3 separate regions of the Homo sapiens genome follow, and regions 1 and 2 are each linked to region 3. Evidence: fine-mapped expression QTL. A gene starts in region 3. Each other region holds a variant in brackets. All regions are shown on one strand. Distances are between the middles of the regions.

Region 1 (8,178 bases), 100 kb before region 3:
TTAATGTCTACCAGTAAAGGATTAATTTAATTAACTAATTTAATTAAAATGAATTAAATTAGTTAATTAAATTCCATACCATGGAATACAATGCAGCTATTGAATCTATATGTATTGTCATGGAGATGCCTCCATGCATGGTTGAGGAACAAAAAACGAAGCAGATTTCTCTGTTGGGGGCTCGTCTTATTCTGCCCAGGTCTCAAGACCAACATCCCCGAGCTTCCATTTAAGGGACAGTGCTCCTGCTCTCTTCACTACCTGCTCCCCAGATGAGCTCTTGCATTTCATGATAACATGAGTCATGTTAACGACTCGCCTATCTCTTCCTCCTGCCAGGCCCACCCCCTTCCCCAGTATTTCAGACTCATATCTCTTATCTTCTGGGTAGTGGTACCTGGAAGTCCAACACCCAGGCTGCCTATGACTTCCATCCCTTTCTTAATCTTGGGCCCTCTACCTGGAATGCCCTCTGCCACACACACCTTCCCAACTCCTACTCATCCTTTAAGACCCAGCTTAGATGCCTCTGTGTCCAAAGTCCTCTTTGGTGCCATCTCAGCTGGATTGGGTGTTTCTCCAACTGAACACATTCCAAACTGAACTCAGCATCTTCTCCCCTAATCCTACTCCTCTTCCATTATTCCCTGACTCTATTCATAGCTCTGAGCATCATCCTGTTCTCAGCCACCTTTACCTCATAAATATTTCCCCACCCTGCAACCCCTCATATCCTCTCCACAAGCACGGCCACCTCTCGGACCCTCAACATCTCTTGCCAAGTTTCCAATGCACCCCCTCCAATATGCTCCCATTCAGTGGTCAGGGATATCTGTGTAACGCATATGCCAATGTCACTCCCCCACTCAAAACCGATGTGCACACATGCACATATACACGCGAATGAATGCAGGCTAAAAAAAAAAAAAAAAAAAAGTGAGGCTGGGCGCGGTGGCTCACACCTGTAATCCCAGCACTTTGGGAGGCCGAGGCGGGCAGATCACGAGGTCAGGAGATCGAGACCATCCTGGCTAACACGGTGAAACCCCCTCTCTACTAAAAACACAAAAAAATTAGCCGGGGGTGGTGGCGGGCACCTGTAGTCCCAGCTACTCGGGAGGCTGAGGCAGGAGAATGGCGTGAACCCAGGAGGCGGAGGCTGCAGTGAGCCGAGATAGTGCCACTGCACTCCAGCCTGGGTGACAGAGCAAGACTCCATTAAAACAAACAAACAAAAAACTCCCTTTTTAAAACAGTAACAGAAGGTCATTGTAAAAGCTTTGGAAATTATAAATTTGGAAATTATAAAATTAAAAAATAAAATTTGGAAATTATAAAATTAAAAAATAAGCCAGAATCACCCAGAGCTTAGAGTGACTGTCTAACACTGTGGCATACCCTGTTCCTCTTGAGCAGTTAAGTAGTCACTGCTCCTGCTCCCAGGGAGCTTGGAAATCCTTGTGGTGCATCATTGGGCATCAAGAGAGTTTCCAGTGCTGCTCTGCTTGCTTTCGTGCCTTGTGCTGACAGGGAGGCAGGCTAGGCCATGCAATCCACCAGCCCTGGGTTCAGATCCCAGCACTGTCCCACACTGGCTTTCAGGGCACCTCCCTGAGCCTCAGTTTTGTCATCTGGGAGACAGGGATGATGATACACACCTGACAAGACAATTTTGCAGCTCCACCTGGTGTGCCTCCCCCTGAAGGGGTCAGAAATTCATGTTTCTGCTAAACTGGGTGCTGTAGAGAGCACTCACAACAGACATAATTATCCTGTAAGTTTTCAATCACTCAATGTTGATTTACGGAGTCTCGCTCTGTCGCCCAGGCTGGACTGCAGTGGCGCCATCTCTGCTCACTGTAAGCTCCGCCTCCCGGGTTCACACCATTCTCCTGCCTCAGCCTCCCGAGTAGCTGGGACTACAGGTGCCCGCCACCACGCCTGGCTAATTTTTTGTATTTTTAGTAGAGACGGGGTTTCACTGTGTTAGCCAGGATGGTCTCGATCTCCTGAACTTGTGATCCGCTCACCTCGGCCTCCCAAAGTGCTGGGATTATAGGCATGAGCCACCGTGCTCAGCCATCAATGTTGATTTCTTTGCAGTTTCCCTGCCCAGTCGTGGGCTGTTTGGCAAGGGCTATTCTGTGGCCAACCTCCTACTATTATTCATTTATTCAACAAATAACCATGAAGCACTTTTAGTGCAAGGGGCCCTACCAGGTGCTAGGGGAACACAGTTAATAAAGTCCTTTCCCTGGTGCAGCTTGTCATCCATGGGCAGGAAGACAAATAAACCAGCGTGAAATGCACACGACAAGTAAAAATAGAGATCAGAGTCACAAGGAAGCTGAAGCAGGAAGCGTGGCATGGAGTGATGGAAAGTACATTAGGGCCGGATGCGGTGGTTCACGCCTGTAATCCCAGCACTTTGGGAGGCTGAGGTGGGCAGATCACTTGAGGCCAGGAGTTCAAGACCAGCCTGGCCAACATGGTGAAACCCCATCTCTAATAAAAATACAAAAATTAGGCCGGGCCTAGTGGTGGGCACCTGTAATCCCAGCTACTCAGGAGGCTAAGGCAGGAGAATCACTTGAACCCAGGAGGTCAAGATTGCAGTGAGCCGAGATCACACCACTGCACTCCAGCCTGGACGACAGAGCGAGACTCTGTCTCAAAAAAAGAAAAAAAGAAAGCAGGCCGGGCGCGGTGGCTCACGCCTGTAATCCCAGCACTTTGGGAGGCCGAGATGGGCGGATCACGAGGTCAGGAGATCGAGACCATCCTGGCTAACACGGTGAAACCCCGTCTCTACTAAAAATACAAAAATTAGCCGGGCATGGTGGCGCACGCCTGTAGTCCCAGCTACACGGGAGGCTGAGGCAGGAGAATGGCATGAACCCGGGAGGCGGAGCTTGCAGTGAGTCGAGATCGCGCCACTGCACTCCAGCCTGGGCGACAGAGCGAAACTCCGTCTCAAAAAAAAAAAAAAAAAAAAAGCAGACTGGGAGTTTAGGGAAGGCCCTTAGGAGGAAGCTGACATTTAAGAGAGATAGGTAGCCAGCCATGGAAGATAGGAGGTGGGGTAAGAGGGCACCTACCTAGCAGGGGACAGGGCACAGGCAATGGCCCTGAGGTGGGAACAAGCTGATAATGTTCCAGGAAAACTCAGAAGGCCACCGTGGCTGCAACACCCAAGCAAGGGCAAGCCACGTGGGAGGCAAAGTGCAAGGGGCAGGCGAGGCTGGTCTCAGAACCACTCACAGGCCATGCCGGGAGCCAGGGCTGTGTTTTGCGTGTGTCAGGAAACTGCAGGAGAGTTTTCAGCAGAAGAGTGACAGGAGCTTATTTATTTCGCAAGAAGATCCTTTTGGCTACTGCAGGGAGGACGTATGACAAGAGAGGATACTGGGAGATTGGTTAGGAGGCTACTGCAGTGGTTCAGGCCTGGATCAAGGCAGACAGTGAAGAAGATTCAGGAATATTCTGAAGGCTATTAAATGATCATAACTACAACCCCTGATGCAGATTCGACAGGATCAGTACGGCCGTTTCACAGAAAAGGAGACAGAAGCCAAGAATGACAAAATAATAATGCCTCCATCATACAGCCAGCATGAACAGGAGTTGGGAATGAAACTCAGGACTTTGGGCTCCCTGCCCTGCGTTCCTCAGCCTGTGGAGGGAGAGGGATGACACAGAGATGCTCCAGGGAACAAGAGCATAGCTGAACCAGGGCGACCTCTAAAAACCCCAGGAGGGCCAGAGCCCCCACCTTCCCTGCAGCCCTCACAGGAAGTGCTCAAGGAATGATCATCAGCTGACTCCAGCACTTCAGTAACACAAACCAATCAGAAGACATGGTTCTCGGTCTCAGGGAATCCAATACCCTGTTCCCCTCCCAAGTCACATTGTGGACTGGGTAGGAAGAGCAGTGGGTGGGTGATGATGCCTCAGTCTTTTTCTTCTGAAAAACAGGGACACCTCTTACCTTACCTCAAAAGACTGTCATGACAATTAATGAGAGACTGTGGACACAGCA[G/A]GACACAAATGTTGGTGGTAGTTAGGATTTCCAGATTGATAAGAAAAGAGCTTCGAGGAAACTGGAAGTAACCTGAAGACTGTCTCCTGCATGGCAGCTAAGACCTCGGATGCCAGGTGGCTTCATCTGACTCCCTTCTCTACCTCAGCTGTGTGATCTCAGAAGTGTTAACTTAGTCTTTCTGAGCCTCAGGCTCCTCATCTACAAGATGGGGCTGCCAATGATTGCTCTGGTCTTGAAGAGCTGTTAAGTGGATTCAATAAGAGAAGGCATAGGAAATGTCAAGCACGATGCTGGTATACAGTGGTGTTAACCATATGGGGGCTGCTGTTATATGGGTGTTATGTGCTGCTATATGGGTGATCGTATCCCCACGATCCCCACCAAGCTTGTGTCTCAGCCTCTGACGCTGAGGAGCTGTGATGCTGCAGAACTGAAGTTACCAGATGTTTCTGAAGGGAACAAGCGCTCTGAATGCAGGAATGTCCCTCCCTCTGGGCCTCCATAGCCCGGTGGGGAGACAGCACCAACACAACCAACACGGCACCAACACAACCAACATGCCTGCAAAGAAACAGTCTCCCTGGGGGGAATGAATTTGGTGAGAAGGAATCTGTAGCTGGTGCTGACAGAGGAAGGAAAATGAGCTTGTTTTCCAGGGGCCATGAAATGTGATGAAAGGAGCCGACTTCAGGCCCAGCACGGGCTCATGCCTATAATCCCAGCAGTAGGGAGGCCAAGGCGGGTGGATCACGAGGTCAGGAGTTCAAGACCAGTCTGACCAACATGGTGAAACACCATCTCTACTAAAAATACAAAAAAAAATTAGCCAGGTGTGGTGGTGCGTGCCTGTAATCCCAGCTACTCAGGAGGCTGAGGCAGGAGAATTGCTTGAACCCGGGAGGCAGAGGTTGCAGTGAGCCAAGATCGCACCACTGCACTCCAGCCTGGGTGACAGAATGAGACTCTGTCTCAAAAAAAAAAAAAAAAAAGAAAGGAGCTGACCTCTGTGGAGGCTCCTGGGGGCTGACGCACAGCCCATCATCAGCCCAGGCTGAGCCTCCAGCCTGGGGCTACAGCACCTCCACCCGCTGCTGTCTGAATAACCTCAGGTCTCCCCTGAGGCTCCTTCCCAGGCCCACACCAGGCCAGCTCCAGAGCCAGACATCCTGGGTTGGCTCTGCAGCTCTGCCCCTTCTGCACTTCACTGAACCTCTCTATGCCACAGTTTCTTCACCTGTAAAATGGGGATAATTACAGTGCCTCCCTCTAGGGCTGTTGAAAGAATTAAATAAAGGCTGGGTGCAGTGGCTCACGCCTGTAATCCCAGCACTTTGAGAGGCCCAGGCGGGTGGACCACTTGAGATCAGGAGTTCAAGACCAGCCTGGCCAACATGGCAAAACCCCGTCTCTACTAAAAATACAAAAATTAGGTGTGGTGGCGGACACCTGTAATCCCAGCTACTTGAGAGGCTGAGGCAGGAGGATCACTTGAACCCGGGAGGCGGAGGTTGCAGTGAGCCAAGATCGTGCCATCCCACTCCAGCCTGGGCGACAAGAGTGGAACTCCGTCTCAAAAAAAAAAAAAAAAAGAATTAAATAAGCTAATTTAGGAAAAAGCACTTGCAACAGGGCCTAGAGAATTGCTGGTTCAGTGATTACTAAATTAATAAAAATTTTTAAACACTTCTAGCTCCTTTCATCTGAGTTTCTTATCCTGATCCCCAAGCATGGGTTATCATTAAATATCATCAAATCTCAGGGCTCCTTTTCAGAAGGGGAAACTGAGGCCCAGAGAATCGAAAGGATCATGACGGCAGAGCCTGACTTGAACCCAATGTCATGTATCTGCCCACTAGACTGTGGCTGTACCAGGTGACCTGTTCTTCTTTATACATCCCTGCCTTTGTCCATCTCAATGCCTCTGCTTAGAACACCCTTTCTCTGGCTTTTCAACCTATCTTTCAGATGTTCAAATGGCACTTCTAGGAAGATCTTCTACTCTTGGGCAAAATAAACCTTCCTCCTCTACATTGGGGCATAATTCAATTTGACAACACAATGGCTGAGTGTGTCATCCTGGCACCGCCTCTGGGGCTGGAGGCACAGAGGGTGAATCAGACCCAGTTCCTGTCCTTGGGAAGCTCAGATTAATGGTCCATATCTATCTCATCCCAAGCTCTAAGCTCCTCCAGGGTGCTGGGCCGGCACCCAGCAGGCACTAAGGAACCAAACTTGCTCAGATCCCCACGCTCAGGGACCGGTCCTCCTTCTACTGCCATTCTGCTTTCTGCAGTTAGAAACCTACTGAGAGTGCTTTCACTGGTCCAGCCCCTCGGGGCCCTGGGATACAGAGCCAGTTTAGGAGAACTCCTTGGTCTTGGGGAGCCTGTTGACAATGCTACCCCAGTTTCATTTGCTAATTCAGACCATCCAGTCTCCATTTTTGTTTTTTTGAGACAGAGTTTCACTCTGTTGCCCAGGCTGGAGTGCAGTGGCGTGATCTTGGCTCATTGCAACCTCCACCCCCCAGGTTCAAGAGATTCTCCTGCCTCAGCCTCCTGAGTAGCTAGGATTACAGGCACCCACCAGCATGCCCAGCTAATTTTTTTTTTTTTTTTTTGAGACAGAGTCTTGCTCTGTCGCCCAGGCTGGAGTGCAGTGGAGCGCTCGGCTCACTGCAAGCTCCGCCTCCTGGGTTCAAGCAATTCTCCTGCCTCAGCCTCCCAAGTAGCTGCGATTACAGGTATGCACCGCCACATCCAGCTAAGTTTTGTACTTTTAGTAGAGGTGGGGTTTCACCATGTTGGCCAGGATGGTCTCAATCTCTTGACCTCGTGATCCACCCGCCCCGGCGTCCCAAAGTGCTGGGATTACAGGCGTGAGCCACCGCAGCCGGCCAATTTTTGTGTTTTTAGTGGAGACTGGGTTTCACCATGTTGCCAGGTCTGGTCTCGAACTCGTGACCTCAAGTGATCAGCTCGCCTTGGCTTCCCAAAGTGCTGGGATTATAGGACAGTCCCTGTTCTTGCTTACGTATCTGAGAGGAAGGTGGTGCAGAGGGCAGGAGCACACTCAAGAGTCAAGAAGGCCTGGATTCAAATCCTGCAGATTGACCTTGGGCTGGGCACACAAATCCCGTGTTCCTCAATTTCTTCATCTGTGAAATGGAGATTATAATGCCCACCCCTCACGGAGCTACTATAACAATTCGAGAGAATGTAAGTCAACTTCCCAGCACAGAAGCAATTGTGGCTAACCCAGAAATTCCCTTCTTCTCCACCCTGGCAAGCCTCCCCATTCTTTGAAGTTCAAATTCTACTTCCTAGAAGAAGCCTTCTCTAACTTTTCCAGGTAGCCTTGAGCTGTCTTCTCTCCACTCCCACTGCACTGACCCCAGAATTCTTGTGTTCTCATTGGTTCACTAGAATCAACTTTCTCTTTCCAGCCAGATAATAAATGACAAAGTCAATTGCAAACCTGCCCCACAGCATCTCACAAGAGGCACTTGAAAAGTAACTTGCAGACAGGCATGAGGTGGCTCACGCCTGTAATCCCAGCACTTTGGGAGGCCGAGGTGGGTAGATATGTTGAGCCCAGGAGTTCACTTGAATTCAGATATGTTGAGCCCAGGAATCACTTGAACCCGGGAGGCAGAGGTTGCAGTGACCTAAGATCATGCCACTGCACTCCAGCCTGGGTAACAGAGTGAGACTCTGTCAAAAAAAAAGAAAGAAAGAAAGAAAGAAACTTGCAGCAGCCAGGTGTGGTGGCTCATGCCTGTAACCCTATCCCTTTGGGAGGCCAAGGCAGGAGGATTGCCTGAGCCTGGCAGACTGAGCTACAATTGTGCTACTGTACTCCAGCCTGGGTGACAGAGTGAGACCTTGTCTCAAAAAATAAAAAGAAGGCTGGGCATGGTGGCTCACGCCTGTAATCCCAGCACTTTGGGAGGCCGAAGTGGCTGGATCACGAGGTCAGGAGATCAAGACCATCCTGGCTAACACGGTGAAACCCCGTCTCTACTAAAAATACAAAAAATTAGCTGGGCGTAGTGGCGGGAGCCTGTAGTCCCAGCTACTCAGGAGGCTGAGGCAGGAGAATGGCGTGAACCCGGGAGGCGGAGCTTGCAGTGAGCC
Region 2 (8,178 bases), 150 kb before region 3:
GAGGAAGGCATTATTACCATTTCTTGGGCGAGATAAAGGGGGCACCGAGGGTATGGTGGCTTAGCCACTGCACTAATGACAGCCACTGCAGTCCTGAGCTCCTCCCTTAGAGCCAGACCCCATGCCCACGTTGATGACTGCATAGTCTCACCAGCTCCTTGCCATAGCAGGTGGCAAGAGGGGTCTCACTATGTTGCCCAGGCTGATCTCAAACTCCTGGCCTCAAGGGATCCTTCTGCCACAGCCTCCTGAGTAGCTGGGCTACAGGTGAGCTACCACACCCAGCTAGTGTTCTCTCTTTCAAAGGTCCCATAAGCCCCTCACTCCTTCCCTGCCAGGCTCCTGGCCAGAAGGAAAAAGAAACAGATGGGGAGGGGAAAAGAGGACTGCACAGGAGACTGATGGAGGGCAGCAGGGACCAGGAAGAGGGGAGAAAAAGAGAAGAGGACCAGGAACAAAGAAGTCAGGGAGCAAGGGAATGCTCGAGGTGGTGGGCAGCCCTGCCAGCCAGCCTGGCCCAGGGACCCCCCGGCAGCCTGCCCTGCTCCCTGCCACACCCTGGTCAGCCTCTTGAAGGGTCCAGGGGCCCAGCCTTCCCCCAAGTTAATCAGCAGGTGGCCTCATGTGGATGAAAGGGTCAGTGCTCATGCCTGGATGGCACAGAGGCCTCATCTCACACTTACTGTCTCCTGGGCGCTGTGCCCACCCCTCTGAGCCCGAGGGTCCTCCACTGTCATCTACAGTTACAGTGATCCCACCACCTGGGGACGATGTGAGCACAGGGCAGCTTAGGTTGGCTCCTGTGAGCCTCACACCCACCCCAGGAGATACGAGGGCCAGGGTTCTGATCCCCGCCTGGGGGTGATGGACAGGAATGCCGCAGGTGGGGAGGGAGAAGAGCGAGCCCCGGACAGGACGTCAGAGAACCTGGGAATTGCCCCACTCAGTGTGCCCCTGGGCAAGTCACTAACAATCTCTCAGCCTCAGCTTCCCCATCTGCAAATGCCACAATCCCATGCTCTCTTCAGGACCATGGCGAAGATCAGGAGGGATGGGAGGGGATACCACAATCAGTGGTGTCAGTCCGAGCAGTACTGGGATATTTACAAGGTCTCAACGTATTTCTCCTGAAGACCTTTTTTTCTTCTTTTTTTTTTTTGAGATGGAGTCTCACTCTGTCACCCAGGCTGGAGGTCAATGGCACAATCTCAACTCACTGCAACCTCTGCCTCCTGGGTTCAAGTAATTCTCCTGCCTCAGCTTCTCAAGTAGCTGGAATTGCAGGTGCCCGCCACCATGCCCGGCTAATTTTTTTGTATTTTTAGTAGAGACGGGGTTTCGTCATGTTTGCCAGGCTGGTCTCAAACTCCTGACCTCAGGTGATCCGCTCACCTCAGCCTCCCAAAGTGCTGGGATTACAGGCGTCAGCCACCACGCCAGGCCTCCTGAAGACTTTTTATTTATTTATTTATTTTTTGAGACGGAGTCTCACACTGTCGCCCTAGCTGGAGTGCAACAGCGTGATCTCAGCTCACTGCAACCTCCACCTCCCGGGTTCACACGATTCTCCTGCCTCAGCCTCCCGAGTAGCTGGGACTACAGGCGCCCGCCACCACGCCCAGCTAATTTTTTGTATTTTTAGTACAGATGGGGTTTCACTATGTTGGACACGCTGGTCTCGAACTCCTGACCTCGTGACCCGCCCGCCTCAGTCTCCCAAAGGCTGGTGGGATTACAGGGGTGAGCCACTGCGCCGGGCCTCTGAAGACCTTTATTAATTACAAACTATAGAAATGATCCCTGAAAGTATAGTCTTAATTACAAAGAGGAAAGCTCTAATTTTACAATAGAGAAATGTTTACAATGGAGGCACCTTGAATCAAGTTATGAAAGTTTAATTAGATTGTCACCAGTGAAGGGACACACTGAGATGACGCATCCCCTGATGTGTGAGCTGAGAACACGACATCACCTCTGTGGAATGAGGAAACTCACACGAGCCCAGAGGGATGGACCTTTTACAAAACATCTGGCTCTTCAAAAACCTCAATGCAACACAAGGCAAAGACTAAAGAACCGTTTCTTCATCAAGGGAGATGAAAAAGAGACACGACAAGGCTCATGCCTGTAATCGCTGCACTTTGGGAGGCCAAGGTGGGAGGATTGCTTGAGCCCAGGAGTTTCAGATAAGCCTGGGCAAGATGGCAAGCCCCACATCCCCAGACCCACGGTCTTAAAAAATAGACAAATCAGCCAGGTGTGGTGGTGCATGCCTGTAATCCCAGCTACTCAGGAGGCTGAGGCAGGAGGATCACCTGAGACCAGGAGGTGGAAGCTGCAGTGGGCCATGATCATACCACTGCACTCCAGGCTGGGTGACAGAGCAAGACCCTGTCTCAAAATAAAATAAAATAAAATAAAATAAAATGAGACACAACAGCTGAATGTGTACATTATCCAAGTTACTTTCATAACTTATTCGAGGTGCCTCCATTGTAAACATTTCTCTATTGTAAAATTAGAGCCTTCCTGTTTGTAATTTGGGGACAATTCACAAAATCTGAATAATGGCATAGTATCAGAAGGCCTTACCATGCTGCTGCTGGCCTTCCCCGCATGCGCCTCCATCTGCTGCCAGTACTTCTTAGACTCCTGAACGATGTCTTCGTGGGTCATGCCTGGGGAGGGTGGGGGCAGACACAGGCATCTTTCAAGGTGCTCAGCAAGGAGGGAGGCAGGGGGTCCACGAGGTGCCAGGGACCCCCGAGGCCCAGCTGGAGGAGCCCTATTCTCAGCCCAGCCACAGTAAGACATGGGGTACAAGGGAACCACTTTGTCCATCTGCAAAATGGGAACAAAGACCTGCTCCGAGCCTCACTGGAAGTGAAAGAATTAAATGCAGCCAAGAGTGGGAAAATGCAGTAGAAAGATATTGGCTCTGTACTGTGGTAGGGAGTCCTCTGCTCCCATGCCAGTGACCCTGTCTCTTGGGCCGGTGACTCAGCACCCTTCCCTGACCCCCATCTCCCTCAACAGGGCTGCAAGCCTAGTGCCTGCTTGGCAGCCCCTGGCCTCACTGGCACTTAGGGCTCCATGCCTGCCCAGCCTGGCTCACCGGTTCACTGTGGTACCACGGCTCTTTACTGCCAGTCCCCAAAGGGCAAATACCCCAGCCTGGTGGCATGGACTCTCCAGTCTGTCTCCCCGCCAGCCTCAGACTGTTGCCACTGAGCCCGACCTTGGAGATCCAGCTCACAACTCTTCCATGAAGCCTGCCCTCTTTTCAGCGCTCTCCATCTTTCTCACGTCTTTCCCACAACAGATGTGGCCTTCCACCTTGACCTATGGCCCCTGCTCCACGACAGCTAATCATCATCGGTGCTTACTTGGGGCAAGACACTGCACTTGACATCCAGTTTCTTGCTGATGATCTGCAAGTATGTATCTACAGGCCAGACCTTTCCTGTGAACCTCCAGATCCCCACATCTGCTGCTTCCAACATCTCCATGTGAAGTCCACCAGGCAGCTCAGACTTCCCACGTCCCACACTGAGCCTGAGCTGCTCCTCTTACAGCCTGCCCCCTCTTAGAACATGGTAGCCCCATTCTTCCTGTTGCTCTGATCTTAGAGTCCACCTTGACGCTCTCCTTTGTCTCATACTTCATATCTGATCCATCAACACATCTTGTTGGCTCCACCCTCAAAATACACCTAGAATCTAACCACTTCTCCCACCTCCAGCATCACCACCCTGGCCCGAGCCACCCTCCCTGATCTCCCGGCTTCTGCCCTTGCTCCTCGATCTCCACCCAGCAGCCAGAGTGACTTTTGCAAAGTACTGATCAGATCATATAACTCCACCCACTTAAAACCCTCCTCCAGACACTGTAAATCATATTTAGAACAACCCCAGTTGTTCCTGTTTAAGGCCTAGAGACTCTTACATGCTCAGTCCCCTCCAACCTCTCAGGCCTCATTCCCCTTCTACTGACTAAGCTGCTCTACCC[C/T]CAGGGACCATCCTTTCTGTGCAGAGCTTGCTCCTGCCTCAGAGACTTCAGTCTGGTCCCTCTTCTGGAATGCACTCCCCGCCCTTCCCTGGTCAAAAGTCACTTCCTCAGAGAGGCCTTCCCAGCCATCTTACCTAAAATGCTCCCATCCCCGAGTCTGTCTCTGTCCCATTGCTCGGCTTTATCTTCCTCATAACACTGAGGCACGCCTGAAATGCTACCACTGCATTTCACCAACTCTAAGCAGACACTGAATGTTATATGTACCATATTTTAAATCCCCGCCCCACAAAATGCTGCTAATTAAATGATGACAGGCAGTAGGGGTAAATGTGCATCCTAGAATGGATGGAATACAGGATTTATTCACCTGTTGATATATTATCTGTCTGGCCCCCACTTATAAATGTAGGTTCTCTGAAAGTAAGGGCCTCGACTAGACCATGGCTGAATGCCCTGACAAGAGAAGGTGCTCAGTAAATCCCTGGTGGGTGAGTGGAGAACACCTTCCAATCCCCGCAGCAGCTCTGTGAGGAAGAGATGGGGCTCCCCATTTCCCAGATGAGCACTGGAGGCTCAGTGAGGAGCGGGGACTTGCTGCCGACCACCCAGGGAGCAAGCAGAGGTCCTGCTGCAGGAGCCCAGGTGCTCCTCTCCCCTCTCCGTGCTCCCTGGACGGTGCCTACGAAGGGAAAAACCCAGATCTCCGAGCCTGGAAGCGCCCTGAGAGCAGAGCTTCTCTCCTCTGTGGTGCCTGGGACACACAGAGAGCCCACCCCGCAGCCACCTCTCCTGAACTCTCCCGAAGCCCCCTCCAGCGACCATGGGGCCCTGGCCTGTCACCCCAGTCAGTCCTGCGCTCCCTTCACCTGCGCCGCCTACCCCTCACCTGAGTCACCTGCCCTCCACCTGCACCGCCTGCCCCTCACCTGAGTACTGCTGCAGCAGCCAGACCTTGAGCTCGATGAAGCTGTGGGCGAAGTGGCAGCTGTCCTCCCGCAGGCAGCCGTAGCGCACCTCATGGCGGCACACGTCGAACTGGAAGTGCTCCTGGAACTGGCGGATCTTGGAGTACTTGAGGGAGGTGGAGCGGACGATGTGCACCAGGCACCTGGCGGGCGGGCAGGCAGGAGGGGCACGATGCAGTCCGCAGCCCCTCTGACCTTCTCTCCTGGTAGGGCCACCTTCCCAGTGCCAGGCTCTCCCTGGGCACCCCCTGATCTATGTACCAAATCCAGGCCATGGATGACACAGGAGGGCAGAAACAGGGCTCCTATGCTCAGGCACCCCTGGGCCTGGGTCCCAGCGCTGCTTTACTCCTGTCCCTCCCCCAGGGTTCAAAGATGGAGCTGCCAACAAGCAAAGGGCACCGCCCTCAGGTTTCCAGCTTGATTCTGCAGAGCCGGTCCTGCATCCTGAGGAACACTAACCAAGCATGTCCTCTGGGCCAGGAGTCTTAATTACCCTCACTGCAGCCCCAGGAGCCTAGAGCATCATCAGCTTTACAGACGAGGAAACCCAGGCTTGGACGTAAGACAGGACTGGCCCAGGAATTGGACCCAGGTCTGTCTGACTGCAGGCCCTGGGCTCCATATGCACACCATGGCAGAACCAAGGGGAACAAGAGGGAGAAAGGGGTGGTGCCAGACCTGACCCAGGCCTCCCCTCACTGCCTGACACTGATGTCATGACATTGGAGGGTGCTGGGCTACAGTCAGAGACGAGGCCCCCCGCTTGCTGTCTGCTGAGTAAGCTGAGTAAGCTAAGTAAGCTACTTCCAAGCCTCAGCTTTTTGTTCTGTACAACAGGGCCAGTAACTCCTCCCTCACAGGATTGCTAAGATAATTAACATACCCAAGATGACGCTTGGAATATAGTAGATGTTCGACAAATGTGATTCTCATCCTTTCCAGGTGGAGGCTGGATTTGATTCCCAAATTCTGCCCCTTTCCTTGCACCCTACATCCACCCTTTCAGTTCAGCCTTTCCTCAGCCATCTGAGCTGCCTGAGGGGACTCTCCACTGGCCCCTAGGCCTCAGCCTGGGCTGAGGGTCCCACTCACTTGTTGTTGTAGAAGCTGTGCTTGGCAGCCAGGTTGGAGCAGACAGACGGAGAGTCCTTGGTGCCTTTGCTGATGATCCGGGGTTTACTGTCAAAGCAGATCTGCCCAGGGAGGGGAAGGGCTGGGACCTGGCATGGCCACCTGGGAAGGGGGTGAGCTGGGACCCCACACAGCTAGCTGGGGAAGGACAGCTGGGTCCCTGCAAGCCCTGCCCTGGGTCAGAGGAGTGAGGAAGGGAATCCCAGGGTCTGTGGTCTTGCCTCTCTGCTTCCAGCTCACAGGTGACCTGGGCTTTGGCTCCCTTCCTCACCCTCCTCCCTCCCTCTGATCCCACCACTCCCAATGCCTGAGGCAGGGGGTTACTTCATGTCAAAAAAAAGATAAAAAGGAATGGCAAGTTCTTTATGAACTACAGGCTGTCACCTGGCTATGAACTATGATTCCCAGGCCAATGCTCCCTGTGGGGGGTTGGCACAAGTCCCGACCTGGAAGAGCTAGGGGAAGGGCTGGTGGTGCCAGGGATGAGGGTTGGACTGAGCGGCACCAAACCCTGCCAGCAACCCGGACCTGGAGCCCTTGCTCTACGGACACAGACGTGCCACTGCCCCTGCCCTCAACATGCTATGACTGGGTGGGGAGACAGGGGCCAAGTTCACTCCGGAGGCCAAGCGGGGTCTTCAGGGACAGCTTTGGGGAGGGAATTAACAGCTCAGTGGGGCTGCTGGGATCAGAGTCCAGCTGAGAGGTTCCAAGCCCAGAAACACAGGACAGCGCCCTGTGGGGAGGGCAAACCCAGGCAGGGAAGCGCAATGGCCACTGAAGCCAGGAGGGCCGAGGAAAGGCATGTGGAGGAGGCCTGAGACGTGGGGCCGTGGACACGGCGCTTGGGACGGCTAAGCAGTGCCAAATACATCATACCCACAACAAGGGATGCGGGGGAAGCCCCGGACAGGCCCTCAATCTGCCTGTGTCCTGGGGGTTTGGCTGTGGGGACCACCAGCAGCAGCTGGTGCTGGGAGGTGGGCATGACTCCAGGGACAGGCTGCCTGGGTTTGAAGCTCAGTTCTGCACGGCACTGTCTGTGTGGCTGAGGGCAGTTCCTCGCTACCCTGAATCTCAGCCTCAACATCTGTAAAATGGGGATATCTGCCTGCCAGCACTGCCGTGACGATGGAAATGACATTTTTTTTTTTTTTTTTTTGGAATAGGGTCTCACTCTGTCACCCAGGCTGGAGTGCAGTGGTTCGATCTTGGCTCACTGCAGCCTCTACCTCCTGGACGCAAGCAATCAATCCTCCCACCTTAGCCTCCTGAGTAACTGGGACGGGAGGCGCATGCCACCAAGCCCAGCTAATTTTTAATTTTTTTTTGAGATGGAGTCTCTAGTGCAGTTGCGCGATCTCGGCTCACTGCAACCTTTGCCTCCCCAGTTCAAGTGATTCTCCTGCCTCAGCCTCCCAACTAGCTGGGACTACAGGCGTGCACCACAACGCCCAGCTAATTTTTGTATTTTTAGTAGAGACAGGGTTTCACCGTGTTGGCCAGGCTGGTCTCAAACTCCTGACCTCAATTGATTTGCCCGCCTCAGCCTCCCAAAGTGCTGGGATTACAGGCGTGAGCCACTGCATCAGGCTAGGAATGAGAAACGAAAACAACCACGTGCCAAGCCCTGCCTATGACTGGCTGTCAGAAAAGAGCAGGTGTGAGGGTTATGATTTTTCTTTCCAGCCTCAGTTTCTGCCTCTGCAAAATGAGGGGGCTGGATCAGATCTGGCCTCTAGCAAGATAGGATCCTAGGGCCCAGACTTACTGACCCTCCAGGACCTACTGGTTCTAAGACCAGGCCTCCACAGCCCACGGGTTCCAGGGCTGACTTCCTATGGTGGTCCGTGCCAGGGAGCATCCCCAGCCCTGTCTGTGCCATGGCCTATGGGGTGGCAGTGGGTGGGTGGGCAGTACCTCGCAGAGGAAGGTGAAGATGCCCTGGTGCTCCTTCAGGAGCTTGGCGATGGTGAGGCTGCCGCGCTTAACACCCCCCAGCGGGTCGAAGAGCAGGTCGCGGTTGAGGGTGCCCTTCCGCTCCTCGGTCCACACGTCGATCTCCTCC
Region 3 (8,178 bases):
ACAGAGCAAGACTCCATCTCAAAAAAAAAAAAAAAGTGAAATATCCTAAGGTACTTCACAAAGACTTTCTGGGGTAGAAGATATATTAGAAATTAATTCTTAGCCAGGCACAGTGGCCCACACCTGTAATCCCAGCACTTTCCGAGGCCAAGGTGGGTGGATCACGAAGTCAGGAGTTCAAGACCAACCTGGCCAAGATGGTGAAACCCCGTCTCTACTAAAAATACAAAAATTGGCTGGGTGTGGTGGCGGGTGCCTGTAATCCCAGGTACTTGGGAAGCTGAGGCAGAGAATTGCTTGAACCCGGGAGGTGGAGGTTGCAGCGAGCTAAGATCGCGCCACTGCACTCCAGCCTGGTAATGGAGTGAGATGCTGTCTCAAAAAGAAAAACAAAAATTCTTCCCCGTTCAATATACATCAAAATGATCTCAACTCAGAAACAATTTAAGTCACAGAAAAGTTAATTTGGGACCTAGACTGCTCCAAAGAGGATGGGAGAGGCAGATGACACACAGATAACTGTGGCATCTTGGTGTGTACTACAGCGCTAGATTCAGCTCTGAGCCTAACTAGCTATAGGGCCTTGGGCAAGTCATTTAACTTCTGTGGGCTTCAACTTTCTCATCTATAAAATAAAAATATTTGACTCGTGAGATGCAAATGAGATAATGTATATGAATCTACCCAGCATGTAACAGAAAACGTGTGAAGAGCCTGGGTACGGTGGTTCACATCTGTAATCCCAGCACTTTGGGAGGCTGAGGCAGGTGGATTGCTTGAACCCAGGAGTTTGAGACCAGCCTTGGCAACACAGCCACACCCCATCTCTACAAAAGAAAAAAAAATTAGCCAGGTGTGGTGGCATGCGCCTGTAGTCCCAGCTTCTTGGAGCTGAGGTGGAAGGACTGCTTGAGCCTGGGAGGTCAAGGCTGTAGTGAGCCATAACCATGCCACTGCAATCCAGCCTGGGCAAGAGAATGACATCCTGTCTCCAAAGAAAAAGAAAAAAAAGCTGGGTGCGGTGGCTCACACCTATAATCCCAGCACTTTGGGTGACCGAGGCGGGCGGATCACTTAAGACCAGGAGTTCAAGACCATCCTGGCCAACATGGTGAAATCCCATCTCTAGTAAAAATACAAAAAATAGCTGGGCATGATGGTGGGTGCCTGAAATCCCAGCTACTCGGGAGGCTGAGGCAGGAGAATCACTTGAACCCAGGAGTTGGAGGTTGCAGTGAGCCGAGATTGCACCACTGCCCTCCAGCCTGGGCAACAGAGTGAGACTCCTTCTCAAAAAAAAAAAGCTGGGTGGTGGTGGCATGCACCTGTGGCTCTAGCTACTCAGAAGGCTGAGGTGGGAAGACAGCTTGAGCCTGGGAGGTCAAGGCTGCACTGAATCATGATCACACCATTGCACTCCAGCCTGGATGACAGAGGGAAGACACTGTCTCAAAGGAAAAAAAAGGTGTGAAGAAAGGAGAAAAGTTTGGCCTCTGGTCCAGAGCTCAAATATCTCTAGTGCTTACTCGCTGTATGACCTGCAGCAAGTCAATTTTGCAGTGCTTCAGTTTCCACATCTGTACAATGAGGATAGTACCACCTATTTCATAGGGTTTGGGGGCTGGCCATGGTGGCTCATGCCTGTAATCCCAGCACTTTGGGAGGCCGAGACAGGAGGATTGCTTGAGCCTAGGAGTTCAAGACCAGACTGGGCAACATAGGGAAACCCTGTCTCTATAAAAAATGGAAAAAATTAGCTGGGTGTTTTGGTTAGGGAGGCTGAGGTGGGAGGAACTCTTGAGCCAGGGAGGTCAAGGCTGCAGTTAGCTATGACTGCACCACTGCACTCCAGCCTGGGTGACAGAGAGCAACCCTGTTTCAAAAAAAAAAAAAAAAAAAAAAAAAGGATTTGGGGGAGAAGTAAGAGACGATACAGGCAAAGCTCTCAGAATAGTGACTTGCATATAGTAAGTGCTCAATAAAGGTTGCCAATTTTTACTGGTTGAAAGCATAGGCTCTGATTTGCCTGAGTTTGAATCCTGGCTCTAACATTTATTAACTGTGTGATTTTGTGCGTATTTTATCTTGCTGCTGTCATCATTACAAGAGAGGTAATAAGCTTTCTTTAGAGAATTCTTACGAAGATTGAGATAAGATATGTAAAACCTAGTTCTATTTCCAGCAGTCAGTAACAGCTCTAAAAGTGTGACTTGCTATTCTTATTCTCCACATGATTATTCTCGTTTACCCTTGCAGAAAGTTTGAGCTATTCCACCTTATATTTGCAACTACACATGCAAATATGCTAGAAAGGAAGCAATTTTTTTTTTTTTTTGAGACACAGTCTCGCTCTGTCGTCCAGGCTGGAGTGCAGTGGTGCAGTGGCCCGATCTCGGCTCACTGCAAGCTCCGCCTCCCACGTTCACGCCATTCTCCCGCCTCAGCCTCCCGAGTAGCTGGGACTACAGGTGCCTGCCACCACGCCCGGCTAATTTTTTTGTATTTTTAGTAGAGATGGGGTTTCACCATGTTAGCCAGGATGGTCTCGATCTCCTGACCTCGTGATCTGCCCGCCTCGGCCTCCCAAAGTGCTGGGATTACAGGCGTGAGCCACCGCACCCAGCAAGGAAACAATTCAAATATAGGTACCCTTGTCAGGCAGGGTGACAGAGACCACCTATAGTCCCAGCTACTTAGGAGGCTGAGGTGTAAGGATTGCTTGAGCCCAAGAGTTAGAGGCTGCAGTGCGTTGTCATCACGCCTGTGAGTAACCACTGCATTCCAGCCAGGGCAACATAGGAACACCCCGTCTCTTAAATATAAGGTGCCCAGAAACCAAATGATTAAAGGATGAGGCGGGGTGCAGTGGCTCATGCCTGTAATCCCAGCACTTTGGGAGGCCGAGGTGAAGCAGACAGATCACCTGAGGTCAGGAGTTCGAGACCAATCCGACCAACATGGCAAAACCTCGTCTCTACTAAAAATACAAAAATTAGCCGGGTGTGGTGACACATGCCTGTAATCCCAGGAACATGGGAGATGGAGACAGAATTGCTTGAACCCGGGAGACGGAGGTTGCAGTGAGCCGAGATCGCGCCACTGCACTCCAGCCTAGGTGACAGAGCAAGACTCCGTCTGAAAGAAAAAAAAAAAAGGATGAGTGGGTTCCAGGTTGCAGTACAGTGTGAAAAGCATAACAGGCAAAGTTTCAGAGGCGGACAGACTTAGTGCCAATCTCCTTCACTTTCCAGCCGGGGTAACTTCCTGGGGTGTCGCACCACCTCTAAGCCTCAGTGGCTTGAACGACAAAGACGAAAGAATAATACATGATTGCTGTGAGTGTACTGGAAGATAATGCACGTGAACGTTACAGACAAGGAGTGATGTTCACCCAACTTTAATCTCCCTTCACTTCCCACCTCATGTAACAGGCCTCACAAGCCCTAAACAACACAGCCACGAGACAAGCAGGATAAGGAAGATTCAGGAGCTCTCAGATCCTAAACCTAGTTCCCTTTCCCCCAGGCCAGGGACGGCTGTTCCTCCCTGAACTCCTCGCCGAACGTTGGCCCCAGCAGGAGAGGGGCAAAAAGTAACGTCAATTGCCTCTGCCCCTGGCTCAGTTTAACTACCTCAGTTTATCCATCCTCCCACCCTCCACCCTCCAGGCGTCGCTAAAAGCCCTAAAGAAGGGCCCACGGAGCGAGGCTCTCGGAGTTCCCTTTCCCAGTCACGCTAAGTCCTCGCCTTCTCACCTCAATACTCCGGGGCTTCTCCATGAGACCTCAGTTTCGCCAAGCGTCACCAGGTGCAGGAAGCCATATTGGCCTGCCCCGTCGCTCTCCGCGAGAGCACTCATTGGTCGCCTCCCTGAGCCGCGGGCCAATCACGCTGCAGGAAGGAGGAAAAGCCGGTTCCGTGCCTGCTCCCGCCATTCTCTCCCTGTGGGCGGGGAAGCCGCGGGCGGTTATGGGAATTGTAGTTCGCATGTGTGCAGGGTGAGTCGTTACCATAGCGACGTGGAAACCAGGGGCGCTGGAAACCTGGTGCGCCTCACGCCGAGTGTTCCAATTACGCCAACCTCTTGACTTCACTGGATGTTATTCTTCCCTAAACGGTTATTGAGCACCTATGATAGTCACTGTTCCAGACTCCAGGAATAACCTCGTACTCTCCCGGGTTAGATATTTAAGGTGCCCTTTTGCTGGGATGCATAGCAGAGGGACTCATTTCCAACTCAGGCAGAAACTGGACTACTCCAGATTAAAAAGAAAAAAAAAAGGAAGAAACTGGAATACTCTGTGTGTGTGTGTGTGTGTGTGTGTGTGTGTGTGTGTGTGTGTGTGTGTGTTTTCTTGAGACGAAGTCTTGCCCTGTCGCCCAGGCTGGAGTGCCGTGGCGCGATCTCGGTTCACTGCAACCTACGCCTGCCAGGTTCAAGCGATTCTCCTGCCTCAGCCTCCCAAGTAACTGGGACTACAGGCGCCCACCACCAAGCCCGGCTAATTTTTGTATTTTTTAGTAGAGACGGGGTTTCACCAGGCTGGTCTTGAACTCCTGACCTCGGGATCCACCCGCCTCGGCCTCCCAAAGTGCTGGGATTACAGGCGTGAACCACCGCGCCCGGCTGAAACTGGAATATTCTTTTTCTCAATACTGTAAATGTCCAGCCTGCTCAAAATCTTACAACATTCCTCCTTCACCACTCTCTCCTGGGTAAAAACCTCGAATCTGAGGCTCTCTGCCTCATCCCGTTAGGGTTTCCCACAACCTCCTTAGACACCCTGAGTTCTAGGTGCTGTTGTGGAGCTTTGCAAACATCTTTTCAAACCCTTAGACATCCTATCACCGTTTGAAAGAAGAGGAAGTGGTGGCTCTTCACCACTTCAGGTTTAGGCACTTTCCAAGATCACACAGGATTGGGATTCCAAATTTAGTACAGATTCCTTCCCTATGCCATGCCGTGTCCCAGTGAATTAATTGAGACTCTAAATGCAATATGTGGAGGCTGAATACATATAAAATATATGCCTAAATTTGAAGTCCGCCGTGGAGATGTCAAACTCTTCCTAGAGGTCTTTCTTTCCTTCAACCCCTTCCACCCTAAACCCCTGTATCCATGCTGTCAACGTGTTGGTTTTTCTACCTCCAAAATATATCCTGTATTTCCTCCACCACTACCACTCTAATACAAGCCACCGGCCCATTGCAGCAGCCCTTCAACTGGTCACCCTTTCTTTCTTTCTTTTATTGATTGATTGATTGATTGAGATGGAGTCTCCCCTGTCGCCCAGGCTGGAATGCAGTGGGATCTCCACTCACTGCAACCTCCACCTCCTGTGGTCACCCTTTTTAAATCTTCACCTTTAATACACACAGGTGATCTTTAAAACTCATTGACCTGGCCGGGTGCAGTGGATCACGCCTGTAATCCCAGCACTTTGGGAGGCCAAGATGGACAGATCACAAGGTCAGGAGATCGAGACCAGCCTGGCCAAGATGATGAAACCCTATCTCTACTAAAAATACAACTATTAGCTGGGTGTGATGACGGGTGCCTGTAATCCCAGCTACTTGGGAGGCTAAGGCAGGAGAATCGCTTGAACAAGGGAGTCAGAGGTTGCAGTGAGCCGAGATTGCACCACTACACTCCAGCCTGGGCAACAGAGCAAGACTCCATCTCAAAAAATAAAAATAAAAATAAATGTTCTGGAATAAGATAGTGGTGAAAAAAAAAGAAAAAGACAGGTTGGTTCAGCAAGTGCAAAGGCCACATTGGTGGAACAGCAAGTGCAAAGGTCCTGGGGCCAACTCAAGCTTGGTATGCAATAAACAGAAAGACAGAGAGAGTAGATGGATATAGCAAAACATGGAGAGGGTGATACAAGATGAGGTTTGAGAGAAAGCTGAGACCAGGTCATTCAGGGTCTTGTGGAGTGCTTGGATTTTATTCTGTGCAAGGGAACGGCATTAGAGTTTTTTTGTTTGTTTGTTTTTGAGACAGAGTTTCACTCTTGTTGCCCAGGCTTGAGTGCAATGGCGCGATCTCGGCTCATCACAACCTCTGCCTCCCAGGTTCAGGCAATTCTCCTGCCTCAGCCTCCCAAGTAGCTAGGATTACAGGCATGCACCACCACACCTGGCTAATTTTTTTTTTTTTTTTTTGTATTTTTAGTAGAGATGGGGTTTCTCCATGTTGGTCAGGCTGGTCTCGAACTCCCGACCTCAGGTGATTCGCCCACCTGGGCAAATGGTCTTGATCGCCTGACCTCGTGATCCGCCTGCCTTGGCCTCCCAAAGTGCTGGGATCACAGGCCTGAGCCACTGTGCCCAGCTAAAAATTTTTTAAAATTAGCTAAGTGTAGTGGCATGTACCTGTGGTCCCAGATACTCTGGAGGCTGAGGAGGGAGGATTGCTTGAGCCCAGGAGGTTGAGGCTACAGTGAACCATGTTCATGCCACTGCACTCTACCCTGGTGACAGAGAAAAAAAAAAGTTGTCTGGCTGGGCATGGTGGCTCACACCTGTAATCCCAGCACTTTGGGACGCTGAGGCAGGTGGATAACTTGATATCAGGAGTTCTGCCAGACGCGGTGGCTCACGCCTGTAATCCCAGGACTTTGGGAGGCCAAGGTGGGCGGATCACCTGAGGTCAGGAGTTCAAGACCAGCCTGGCCGACATGGTGAAACCCCATCTTTACTAAAAATACAAAAATTAGCCGGGCTTGGTGAGGCATGCCTGTAATCCCAGCAACTCCGGAGGCTGAGGCAGGAGAATCGCTTGAACCTAGGAGGCGGAAGTTGCAGTGAGCTGAGATCGCGCCATTGCACTCCAGCTTGGAAAAAAAACAAAAAAGGAATTCTAGACCACCCTGGCCAACATGGTGAAAACCCTGTGTCAATTAAAAAAAATTACAAAATATTAGCCTGGTGTGGTGGCACAAGCGTATAGTCCCAGCTACTTGGGAGGCTGAGGTGGGTGGATCACTTGAGGTCAGGAGTTTGAGACCAGCCTAGCTAACATGGTGAAACCCCATCTCTACTAAAAATAGAAAAATATTGGCCGGGCACAGTGGCTCATGCCTGTAATCCAAGGACTTTGGAAGGCTGAGGCAGGTGGATCACCTGAGGTCAGGAGTTCGAGACCAGCCTGACCAATATGGTGAAACCCCATCTGTGCTAAAACTACAAAAATTAGCCGGGTGTGGTGACATGCGCCTGTAGTCTCAGCTACTCGGGAGGCTGAGACCGGAGAATTGCTTGAATCAGGGCGGTGGAGGATGCAGTGAGCCGAGATTATGCCACTGTACTCCAGCCTGGGCGACAGAGCAAGATTTTCTCTCAAAAAACAAACAAACAAACAAAAACCAACAACAACAAAAAAGTTGTCTGGGTGGAATAGCACAATGGCAGGGCATAGAGCAGAAGAGGTGAGTTTAAGGGATTTATGTACATAGTTTGGAACAGAAGAGCACGTTTGTGTTGCTATTGGGAGTGATCTAGTAGAGAGAGACAGATCAATGATCCCAGACAGAGGGACAGTGATGCACAGAGGGAGGGCCTTAAAAGAGAGGAGCGTATTAGGTCCACATGTAGAGGGATGAATTAGTCCAGCCAAAAAGGGTACCTTTGCTGCAGGATGAAACCCCTGCCCAGGAGCTCCATAGCAGAAGGAACTGCCACACTGTTACTGTTCTGGGGCGGCCACTATTGCTTAGCAACCTGTGCTTAATAAGATGTTTCAACTGAATTCCTAATAAACGGCCATTTCAACTTACGCCAACGGTTCCTGTCACTGGTGTTCCTGCTCTGCTTATCTCATACGCTGAAACTGGATGCTCAGGTTTTTACTTCCTTGTACTGTTGATGTATGCATTTTTTGCTTTTGTTTTTTTTTTTTCTGGAGACGGAGTTTCGCTCTTGTTGCCCAAGCTAGAGTGCAATGGCGTGATCTCAGCTCACTGCAACGTCTGCTTCCTGGGTTCAAGCGATTCTCCTGCCTCAGCCTCCCGAGTAGCTGGGATTACAGGCATGCGCCACCATGCTAGGCTAATTTTTGTATTTAGTAGAGACGGGGTTTCACCATGTTGGTCAGGCTGGTCTCGAACTCCTGACCTCAGTTAATCCACCAACGTCAGTCTCCCTAAAGAGCTGGGATTACAGGTGTGAGCCACCGTG

Evidence for each region. PIP is the estimated chance that this variant, and not a neighbour inherited with it, causes the effect. A credible set is the group of variants that fine-mapping cannot tell apart.
Region 1: its variant is the best candidate, but not a certain one, in a credible set for the expression of L3MBTL2 in whole blood (TOPMed, PIP 0.61).
Region 2: its variant is the best candidate, but not a certain one, in a credible set for the expression of L3MBTL2 in whole blood (INTERVAL, PIP 0.65).

What each region holds. Positions count from the first base shown.
Region 1 is chr22:41,303,827-41,312,004 of GRCh38, reverse strand. The region is part of intron 1 of ZC3H7B (zinc finger CCCH-type containing 7B); the gene reads right to left. Among named protein-coding and RNA genes, the nearest start is that of ZC3H7B, 6.4 kb to the right of the region's middle. RefSeq lists enhancers at 2,647-3,146, 3,147-3,648. The variant G/A (reference allele first, on the strand shown) is at 4,040.
Region 2 is chr22:41,346,061-41,354,238 of GRCh38, reverse strand. ZC3H7B (zinc finger CCCH-type containing 7B) reads right to left here. Exons shown (of 23, transcript NM_017590.6): 14 at 8,031-8,178; 15 at 6,072-6,172; 16 at 4,938-5,119; 17 at 2,593-2,678. Among named protein-coding and RNA genes, the nearest start is that of TEF, 32 kb to the left of the region's middle. The variant C/T (reference allele first, on the strand shown) is at 4,009.
Region 3 is chr22:41,200,964-41,209,141 of GRCh38, reverse strand. L3MBTL2 (L3MBTL histone methyl-lysine binding protein 2) reads right to left here and starts at 3,830. Exons shown (of 17, transcript NM_031488.5): 1 at 3,756-3,830. The coding sequence starts at 3,779. L3MBTL2-AS1 (L3MBTL2 antisense RNA 1) reads left to right here. Exons shown (of 3, transcript NR_148200.1): 3 at 1-20. RefSeq lists an enhancer at 2,486-2,986.